3 separate regions of the Homo sapiens genome follow, and regions 1 and 3 are each reported to be linked to region 2. Evidence: microRNA targets listed by miRTarBase, many of them from high-throughput screens and not tested one by one. Region 2 holds a microRNA gene; each other region holds the end of a gene's coding sequence.

Region 1 (3,209 bases), not on the chromosome of region 2:
GTTGGAAGCCAGGAAAAAAACAATTGTGTGTGCTAGAGATGTTTCCTTTTGCTACATTTGCAGCCCTGGTGACTGTGACATAAATCTATTGAGCCTTGCCATTGCTTCGCTGGGTTCCAAGAACATCCAATACTTGTCTGATGTTAAGTTTTACTGCCCATGAAAGCAAACATCACCTCTGTCATGGCCAGTTAAACAGTATCTTTTCAGTGGACTTCTGCATATCTGAAACCCACCCATCCAAAGCCAAAAGTAATGCCGGGGGAAAGATTTTATGCTGCCATGTTTCTTACAAGGGAAGATCAAGGGTCAACTTGATTCATAAAATTACTGCAGTCATTTTTCAGCTGGCTGAGAGACTTCACAGATCAAAAAATACGTGGCTCCTAAATGATTTCTGATATGCACAATTCTAGTGTTTTTTGTTCTCAGCATGTGGCGCAAAGCCTGCCAGAAACCATCTTTGCGGCTATTGACAGGCGGATTAGAAATCATCCACGATGGTTTCCTTCATTTCTCTACAGGCTGGTCATCCATTTAAACTGCTTAATGTGAATTCCTCTCAAAGCCTGCTTTGTACATGCTTTTCCCTGACGTTTTGTTCTTCTCTTTCAGTGTGGTGCTCACCTTGGGCACATTTTTGATGATGGGCCTCGTCCAACTGGGAAAAGATACTGCATAAATTCGGCTGCCTTGTCTTTTACACCTGCGGATAGCAGTGGCACCGCCGAGGGAGGCAGTGGGGTCGCCAGCCCGGCCCAGGCAGACAAAGCGGAGCTCTAGAGTAATGGAGAGTGATGGAAACAAAGTGTACTTAATGCACAGCTTATTAAAAAAATCAAAATTGTTATCTTAATAGATATATTTTTTCAAAAACTATAAGGGCAGTTTTGTGCTATTGATATTTTTTCTTCTTTTGCTTAAACAGAAGCCCTGGCCATCCATGTATTTTGCAATTGACTAGATCAAGAACTGTTTATAGCTTTAGCAAATGGAGACAGCTTTGTGAAACTTCTTCACAAGCCACTTATACCCTTTGGCATTCTTTTCTTTGAGCACATGGCTTCTTTTGCAGTTTTTCCCCCTTTGATTCAGAAGCAGAGGGTTCATGGTCTTCAAACATGAAAATAGAGATCTCCTCTGCAGTGTAGAGACCAGAGCTGGGCAGTGCAGGGCATGGAGACCTGCAAGACACATGGCCTTGAGGCCTTTGCACAGACCCACCTAAGATAAGGTTGGAGTGATGTTTTAATGAGACTGTTCAGCTTTGTGGAAAGTTTGAGCTAAGGTCATTTTTTTTTTTCTCACTGAAAGGGTGTGAAGGTCTAAAGTCTTTCCTTATGTTAAATTGTTGCCAGATCCAAAGGGGCATACTGAGTGTTGTGGCAGAGAAGTAAACATTACCACACTGTTAGGCCTTTATTTTATTTTATTTTCCATCGAAAGCATTGGAGGCCCAGTGCAATGGCTCACGCCTGTGATCCCAGCACTTTGGGAGGCCAAGGCGGGTGGATCACGAGGTCAGGAGATGGAGACCATCCTGGCTAACATGGTGAAACCCCGTCTCTACTAAAAATACGAAAAATTAGCCAGGCGTGGTGGTGGGCACCTGTAGTCCCAGCTACTCAGGAGGCTGAGGCAGGAGAATGGCGTGAACCCGGAAGGCGGAGCTTGCAGTTAGCCGAGATCATGCCACTGCACTCCAGCCTACATGACAATGTGACACTCCATCTCAAAAAATAATAATAATAACAATATAAGAACTAGCTGGGCATGGTGGCGCATGCATGTAGTCCCAGCTACTCCTGAGGCTCAGTCAGGAGAATCGCTTGAACTTGGGAGGCGGAGGTTGCAGTGAGCTGAGCTCATACCACTGCACTCCAGCCTGAACAGAGTGAGATCCTGTCAAAAAAGAAAAGAAAAAGAAAGCAGCATTCAAATGTAAGACAACTGTAAAATATTGAGCCCCACTTGGTCTAAAATTCAAAAAGAAGAACGCCTGTCCATCGCCTTTTTATAAGTCCTTCTCTCCACACCTAAAAGCAGCTGCAGCTGGAAGGGCACAAATTCCACTGTGTAAAATAAAATATTAGGGGCAACACACTTCATCAAGGCAGCAGGAATGAGAGAGAGCAGAGAAGATCAAGGATGAAGTCTTGGGTACTGAAAAATTCAGTGCTGGGCAGAAAAACTGACAGGGCAGTACAAGTAACAAACAGAATCCAAGTGGGGTGGCCCTTGTGCACAGAGCTCCAGGTGACCTCTGGAGAGACATGGGCATTCACATGGAAAGCTAAAACGGAAGCTCAAGTTTCATACTCAACATAATCTTCTGTGTGACAAAGGACAAGCCATGTAGCCTCTCTGTGCCTATTTCTTCATGCATAAACTGGGACTCATAATATTTGTAAAATGTATTGATACTCTCAGGGCAAATTCACTATATTGCTATACAGTTGAGATCAGTGTTGTAAAATTAAACTGATCTGGTTCTAATTGCCTCAAAGGCCAAAGCCCAGGCATTTGAAATGGAAAGAAGCAGAGAGGAGGCTGACTTAGCTGATTGGTATGGAAACAGTTGGGCCAAGAGCCAGAATTTCCCTTTGTAGCAACACGGCTAGTTTTACTTTGAGAAGCTCTGCTCAGCTGCTTTATAACATTAAGTCTGGCGGAATGGATGTCACTGTGCACAATAAAGTTTTCACAAGTATAAACAATGGTGATGTAAGTCAACATTGCTGTAGCCAGGTGTGAAGGTTGTATGGTGTGTGACGAATGTACATCATGTTTGTAGGTTTGGATGCTAATCTTGAATTGTAGTTTAAAAAATACGTATTTTTGTAACTCTTTGAAAGTTTATGAAGACTGACAGCTTTCCTTGTAAGCACTAAGAGAAAAAAAAGAAAGAGGGACATTTGACAATTTTAAAGAAACAACAAGAAATTAGAATGAAAATCTGTGACAAACAGCGTCAGTGTGGCCATGTCCACATTCCTACATGTCTCTCTCTACAAGCACCTCTCTAAGAAGCCTGACATCCCGGTGGACTCTTTATAGTCATGTACACTTGATTCCAGATGAGCTCTGGTCTTATCTGGATGCTCAGATAAGAGGTTTCTATCTGAGCATCCAGATGTTCCCTCAGGTTCCAAGACATTTCACCCCAGGCCCTGGGTTCACTCTGGAATTCGTAGGCTTCACGTCTCTCT
Region 2 (3,256 bases):
TTACTTTAAGCCATCAAGTTTTTTTTTTTTTTGTAACCAGATCAGAAACAAATATTTAACCCTATTTTCTGGCATGCAACCTTAATTCTTAAGACTGCTAAAGTTAGAACAAACTTAAAAATAGTCCAGCCCCATCACTAGCAATTTATAGATCAAAAACTGAAGCCCAGGAAGGAAGAGTATCTTCATCAAGATCACAACGCTAGGCAGTAGCAGAACTAGAACTCCAGAACAGGTCTTCTCAATCCAAAGCCTGTGATGATGTCCAGCTACCAACAGAGCACCATACACTATAAAATCAAAGCCAATTTCTTGTTCTTCTAAGCTCCTCCCATTCCCAACCAAATTCTTGGTCATTTTTTCATTATGCCGTCTCTAAATCGTGGACATTTAACAAAACCACCTCCAAGCTAAGACAAATAGATCTCAAAATAGAATATGAAAACAGCATAAAATCACAAAAATATAACTAAGTTTGCTTGTTTGTTGAAGGTAAAATTTCCTCTTCATATTCTTAGAGGGAGAGACCATAATGTACTTCCCTAGCATAGCATGATTAAAGAGACATTACTAACAGTAAATCAAATGTAAATTACGTTACATTTCACATAAATCTGATAGTTTTCCTTTTTTAGACAAAAATACAATATGATTGACACAAAAGGACAAATACTATGATTCCACTTATATGAGGTATCTAAAATAGTCAAATTCATAGAGACAAAGGAAAATGCTGGTTACCAGGGGCTGAAAGAAGGTGGGGCATGGGGAGTTACTGTTTAACAGGTACAGAGTTTCAGTTCAGGAAGATGAAAACAAGTTCTGGAAATGGATGGTGGTGATGGCTGTGCAACAGTGTGAATGTACTTAATGCCACTGAACTGTACACTTAAGATGGCAAATTTTGTTATATATGCTTTATCACAATTTTAAAAATAGAAAAAATATACTATAATTAGAAATTTGTATTTCTGTGGATAAAAGGAAGAATGGATAAAAGCGGCACAAAAGTTGTCTTAAAAGCAACATAAAAGACACATTAACTTGAAACAGTTCCTACTCTGGTAATAAAATCCACTCACATGTACCTCCAAATAGTCCAAAACAGAGTATTCCTTCCCATCCCCACGGTGAGACATAACAGCATTCAAAACCCACTCTATACTTGGAGATGTGCCGTAGACCAAAGTGTGCCGGCCATGCTGGGTGGAGAAGGTGGTGAAGGGTGAAGAGCTCTTACCTCCCACTGCCCTCTCTACCCGGCACAGCCCCCAGAGCACAGATTCCAGAAGGATTTCGGTGTTGGGCCAGGGACTGCAAGTGTGACAGAGCCTCTGGTGGTCCTGCTAGGTAAAAGCATGAAAACATTTCTGTGAGGTCAGAAGACACTGGAGACTGCAGAAGGGAACTTTTCTGTCTTTTTGCCATGAAAAAGCACTAGTATAAGCAGAAAATAGACAGCTGGATTTAAATGTAAAACAAAGCAAAGACCTTTTCACCCTGCTTCACGAATTTTAGAGCAATTTATAGTTCAACTTCATTTCAGGTCTTCAAAATGAATATGGGCAAAGTAATGCTGTAAAAGACCACCCACTACGTTGAATACCTTTGTTGGTGCTGCCTTAGGATTTTTTTTTTTCTGTGCAGTATAATCCTGAGTATCATAACATTTACAAAGCATTTTCAAATATGTTATTTCTATCTGATGAGAACCACAGAATATCACAGCAGGAAGGAATAATTTAGTCCATCTTTAGATAACAGATGAGTGATTTAAGACTGAAAGAATACACAAGATTCCATAGCTGGTTGGAAGCAGAGACAAGACCAGAACCCAGCATTCCAAACAACTCTCCAACCTCGTAAGATTCTGAGAGGTCTCAGGACCTTTATCCTACATGAGCAAGAATAAACAGAACAGGTGATTTCTTGTGTTTTGTTGTATCTACTGGAAATCTCTCTTACATATAAATAAGCATCTTAGTAAAAATGTCTGGATAACCTAAGGAGAATTTTGGGCGTAGGGAGAGGTAAAAGATAAGAGGAGACAGATAAACCAGGTTGTTCATAATTTAATATTCCTGCTGTCACAGATTTTATAGCTTAGTGAATGCTGGTACACTGAGATACTTCTATCCCAGCAGTGTATTAATATTTATTATTTGATTATTTCTGGTACCTTGTGATTCTCACTAGATTTCAGGAAAACACTAGCACTGGGCATACAAAGGCTTTTACATGTGACTCAATCATTCCCCTTATATACCCCCGTACCCATTTCAAAACGACTTTCATTCTAGTTTAGAGCTAGCTAGCTTTGCTTTCTCTACCAAGTGTAAATAAATATTCATGTTATTACATATACTGTTATCTGTCACAGGGTTTTATCTTTAATTTGGTGTATCTTTCAATTTTCACTGCATAAATAAATGCAGTAAAATAAATGAAATGAATGTTTGGACATCCTAGGTTTCTTGTTGTCTTAATTTTGTATAAAACTAAATACTCTGTATCCAAAGTGTAGGAATGTTATGTGACCCAACAGTTTTCAATAATTTTCTTGGTGGAAGGCACTTTAAGTCATGTACAAATGGTACTTCTTATTGGCAAAAAATAGATCACTCACTAGTGATTTTGAGCTTATTTGTGCACTGAAGTTGCTTATTTTCAATATTTGTGTTGACTTTAAAAAAAAACAAAAAAAAAACAGACTCACTCTGTCGCCCAGGCTGGAATTCAGTGGTGCGATCTCGGCTCACTGCAACCTCTGCCTCCCAGGTTCAAGCGATTCTCCTGCCTCAGCCTCCCGAGTAGCTAGGATTACAGGCATCCACCACCATGCCTGGCTAATTTTTGTATTTTTAGTAAAGACGGGGTTTCACCATGTTGGCCAAGCTGGTCTCAAACTCCTGACCTCAAGTGATCTGCTTACCTCGGCCTCCCAAAGTGCTGGGATTACAGACATGAGCCACTGTGCTCAGCCTGTGTTGATCTTTAATATAGATTGAGCATTTCAAATCTGAAAATCCAAAATCTAAAATGCTCCAAAATCAAAAGCTTTTTGGGTAACAACATAACACTCAAAGGAAGCACACACTGGGGCATTTTGGATTTCAGATTTTTGGATTTGGAATCCCGAACCAATAAGTATATAATGCAAATATTTCAAAACCTCACAAAAATCTGAACTCTCAAACACTTCTGGTCCCAAGAGATTTGGATAAGGGCTATTCAACCTGTATTAGGTCCTACTCAG
Region 3 (3,256 bases), not on the chromosome of region 2:
TGTTTGTTTTTTGTTTTTTTGTTTTTAGACAGATTCTTGCTCTGTCACCTAGGCTGGAGTGCAGTGGCACAAACTCAGCTCACTGCAACCTCTGCCTCCGGGTTCAAACGATTCTCTTGCCTCAGCCTCCCGAGTAGCTGGGACTACAGGCGCCCACCACCACGCCCGGCTAATTTTTGTATTTTTTAGTAGAGACTGGTTTTCACCATGTTGGCCAGGGTGGTCTCAAACTCCTGCCTCAGGTGATCCGCCCATCTCGGCCTCCCAAAGTGCTGGGATTACAGTCCTGAGCCACCACACCTGTCCCCTCCCCTGCTGTTTCATCTTGGTGCTTCCTACTGATAACTCAGTATTTTGGAGTCGCATTGTCTCCCCAACGCGAGTGCAGGCGCCCCGAAGGCAGGGGTTGTCTGTCTAGTCCGCTGCCCCTTCTCCTGCTCCCGAGACCGAGGCAGACGCTCAGTAAAGAGTCCTGGTGCCTGCTGATTGCTGTCCCCGCAGCACGTGTTCTGTGAGGAGTGCCTCTGCCTGTGGCTGGACCGTGAGCGCACCTGCCCGCTCTGCCGCTCGGTCGCCGTGGACACCCTGCGCTGCTGGAAGGACGGCGCCACGTCCGCACACTTCCAGGTGTACTAGGACCGAACACTGAGGACACCCAGAAGGACGCCAAGGGTCAGCATGCCCGGACCCAGCCCTGCGGGGGCTTCCTGAGAAACAGGCCTCAAGCACTTACATCCTGCCTCTTGCCCTCCACCACCTCTGACCCCAAAGTCCCGCCCCTGTCTTGTCCTTCTGACCTTCATCTTCCTCTCTCGTTCTGTGGTATAGTGCGTGCCTCCTTCCCCTGCAAAAGGGGACGTCTTCCTAACTCAGACTTGATGCCCTTCTAGATGCATCTTCCTTCTCCACTCCAAGTCAAGGACCTGGCAATACATGAAGTTCCCACTTGTTGGTTATTTTCTCTTTCTTTTTTCTTTTCTTTTCTTTCTCTCTCTCTCTGTTTCCCTCCCTCCCTCCTTCCTTCCTTCCTTCCTTTTTTTTTTTTTTTTAAAACAAGGTCTCGCTCTATCACCCAGGCTGGAGTGCAGTGGCACAATCTCGGCTCGCTGCAACCTCCACCTCCTGGGTTCAAGCGATTCTCCTGCCTCAGCCTCCCGAGTAGCTGGGATTACAGGCACCCACCAACACACTTGGCTAATTTTTGTATTTTTTAGTAGAGACAGGGTTTTGCCATGTTGGCCAGGCTGGTCTCCAACTCTTGACCTCAAATGATCAGCTCGCCTCAGCCTCACGAAGTGCTGGGATTACAGGCATGAGCCACCGTGCCCAGGCTCACTTTTTTTTTTTTTTTTTTTTTTTTGAGACAGGGTCTGGGTCTTCACCCAGGCTGGAGTGCAGTTGGCACAATCACAGCTCACTGCAACCTTGAACTCCTGGGCCCAAGCCATCCTCCCGCCTCAGCCTCCCAAGTAGCTGGGACTACAGGTGTGTGCCACCAGGCCTGGCTAATTTTTTTTTTTTTTTAATTTTTAGTAGAGGCGAGGACTTATTATGTTGTCCAGGGTGTTCTCAAACTCCTGGGCTCAAGCAATCCTCCTGTCCTGGCCTCGCAAAGTGCTGAGTGCTGGAATTACAGGTATGAGCCCCTGTGCCCAGCCCACCTGCTGGTTATTTTAACTTAGTACCTAGTACCTAGGACTTGATGGTGCAGGCTGGGGAGGAGCCTAGAGATCACTGCCTCCCAGATAGCCCAGGCCTGCAGATTAGAATCCCTGTGAGCCCTGTGAAGTATTTTTTCTTTTCTTTTCTTTTTTTTTTTTTTTTTGTTGTTGTGAGACAGAGTCTTGCTCTGTTGCCCAGGCTGGAGTGCAATAGCACGATCTTGGCTCACTGCAACCTCCGCCTCCCGGGTTCAAGTGATTCTCCTGCCTCAGCCTCCCGAGTAGTTGGGACAACAGATGCGTGCCACCATGCCCAGCTAATTTTTTTTTTGTATTTTTAGTAGAGATGGGGTTTCACCACGTTGGCCAGGCTGGCCTCAAACTCCTGACCTCAAGTGATCCACCTGCCTCAGCCTCCCAGAGTGCTGGGATTACAGGCATGAGCCACCACACCTGGCCCAAAGTATTTTCAAAATACAGTTGTTGGGCCCCACCATATACCTGTAATGACTTAAGGTCCCAAATACTTCATGCGCAGCAGGCAAAGCATGCAGCATCCTGCTTGGATTACGTGCTGTCATCCTCACAACAGCCCTGTGATGGGGGAGGTACTGTTGGGTCCCCTGTTTTATAGATGAGGAAACTTGGGCACAGAGCTTGGTGCGGTAACTTTCCCAGGGTCACCCAGCCAGCATGGGCGGGCCAAGTTTCCAACAGAGGCCTGGTACAGTTTCAGAACCCACATCTAAAAAAAAATAAATTTATTAGAGATGAGGTTTCTAATAAAAATCCAGGTTGTCCAGGCTAGATTCAAACTCCTGGGCTCAAGTGATCCTCCCTCCTCAGCCTCCCAAGCAGCTGCAACTACAGGCACACTCCGCTATCCCCAGCAGAGCCCGCACTCTTAACCTCCGCACTGCTCTGCCCCTCAGACATTCCAGGCATGGGGCCCAGCAGACACGGTCTTCTAAAAGCACACGAGAGGCCGGGTGTGGTGGCCCATGCCTGTAGTGCCAGCATTTTGGGAGGCTGAAGCAGGCGGGTCACCTGAGGTCAAGAGTTCAAGACTAGCCTGGCCAACATGGCAAAACCCCCTCTTTACTAAAAAATACAAAAATTAGCCGGGCGCGGTGGCGGGTGCCTGTAATCCCAGCTACTCAGGAGGCTAAGGCAGGGAGAACTGCTTGAACTCGGGAGGTGAAAGTTGCAGTGAGCCGAGATTGCACCACAGCACTCCAACCTGGGTGACAGAGTGAGTGAGACTCTGTCTAAAAAAAAAAAGAAAGAAAGAAGGGAGGGAGGGAGGAAGGAAGGAAGGAAGGAAAGAAAGAAAGGTCAGCTTTGGCCCAGATGTGGTTACCCCTTGGTCTCCTGTCTTTATGTCTTTCTCCTCTTCCTATTCTGTCATCTCCCTCACTTAAGTCTCAGGCCTGTCAGCAGCTCCTGTGGACATTGCCATCCCCTCTGGTAGCCTTCAGAGCAAACAGGACAACCTATGTTATGGATGTTTCCACCAACCAGGGTAGTGGCATGGAGCACCGTAACCATCTGTGCTTCTGTGATCTCTATGACAGAGCCACTTCTCCACCTCTGAA

Evidence for each region. The annotated mature microRNA hsa-miR-197-3p reads UUCACCACCUUCUCCACCCAGC and lies in region 2 at 1,202-1,223, opposite strand. An mRNA with a match to its seed (bases 2 to 7 or 8) in the 3' UTR can be bound and repressed. Matches are read on the target gene's strand: a 7mer-m8 pairs with bases 2 to 8, a 7mer-A1 pairs with bases 2 to 7 and ends in A, and an 8mer does both.
Region 1: miRTarBase lists MSRB3 as a target of hsa-miR-197-3p. Seed matches in the 3' UTR shown: 7mer-A1 at 1,551-1,557.
Region 3: miRTarBase lists RNFT2 as a target of hsa-miR-197-3p. The part of its 3' UTR that is shown has no 7-base or 8-base seed match.

The regions. Positions count from the first base shown.
Region 1 is chr12:65,462,540-65,465,748 of GRCh38, forward strand. MSRB3 (methionine sulfoxide reductase B3) reads left to right here. Exons shown (of 7, transcript NM_001031679.3): 7 at 616-3,209. The coding sequence ends at 783. Among named protein-coding and RNA genes, the nearest start is that of LINC02454, 140 kb to the right of the region's middle.
Region 2 is chr1:109,596,907-109,600,162 of GRCh38, reverse strand. It overlaps MIR197 (microRNA 197), which reads right to left and starts at 1,270; the gene lies at 1,196-1,270. It overlaps GNAI3 (G protein subunit alpha i3), which reads right to left. Exons shown (of 9, transcript NM_006496.4): 9 at 1-3,256.
Region 3 is chr12:116,848,813-116,852,068 of GRCh38, forward strand. RNFT2 (ring finger protein, transmembrane 2) reads left to right here. Exons shown (of 11, transcript NM_001382266.1): 11 at 502-3,256. The coding sequence ends at 636. Among named protein-coding and RNA genes, the nearest start is that of HRK, 31 kb to the right of the region's middle.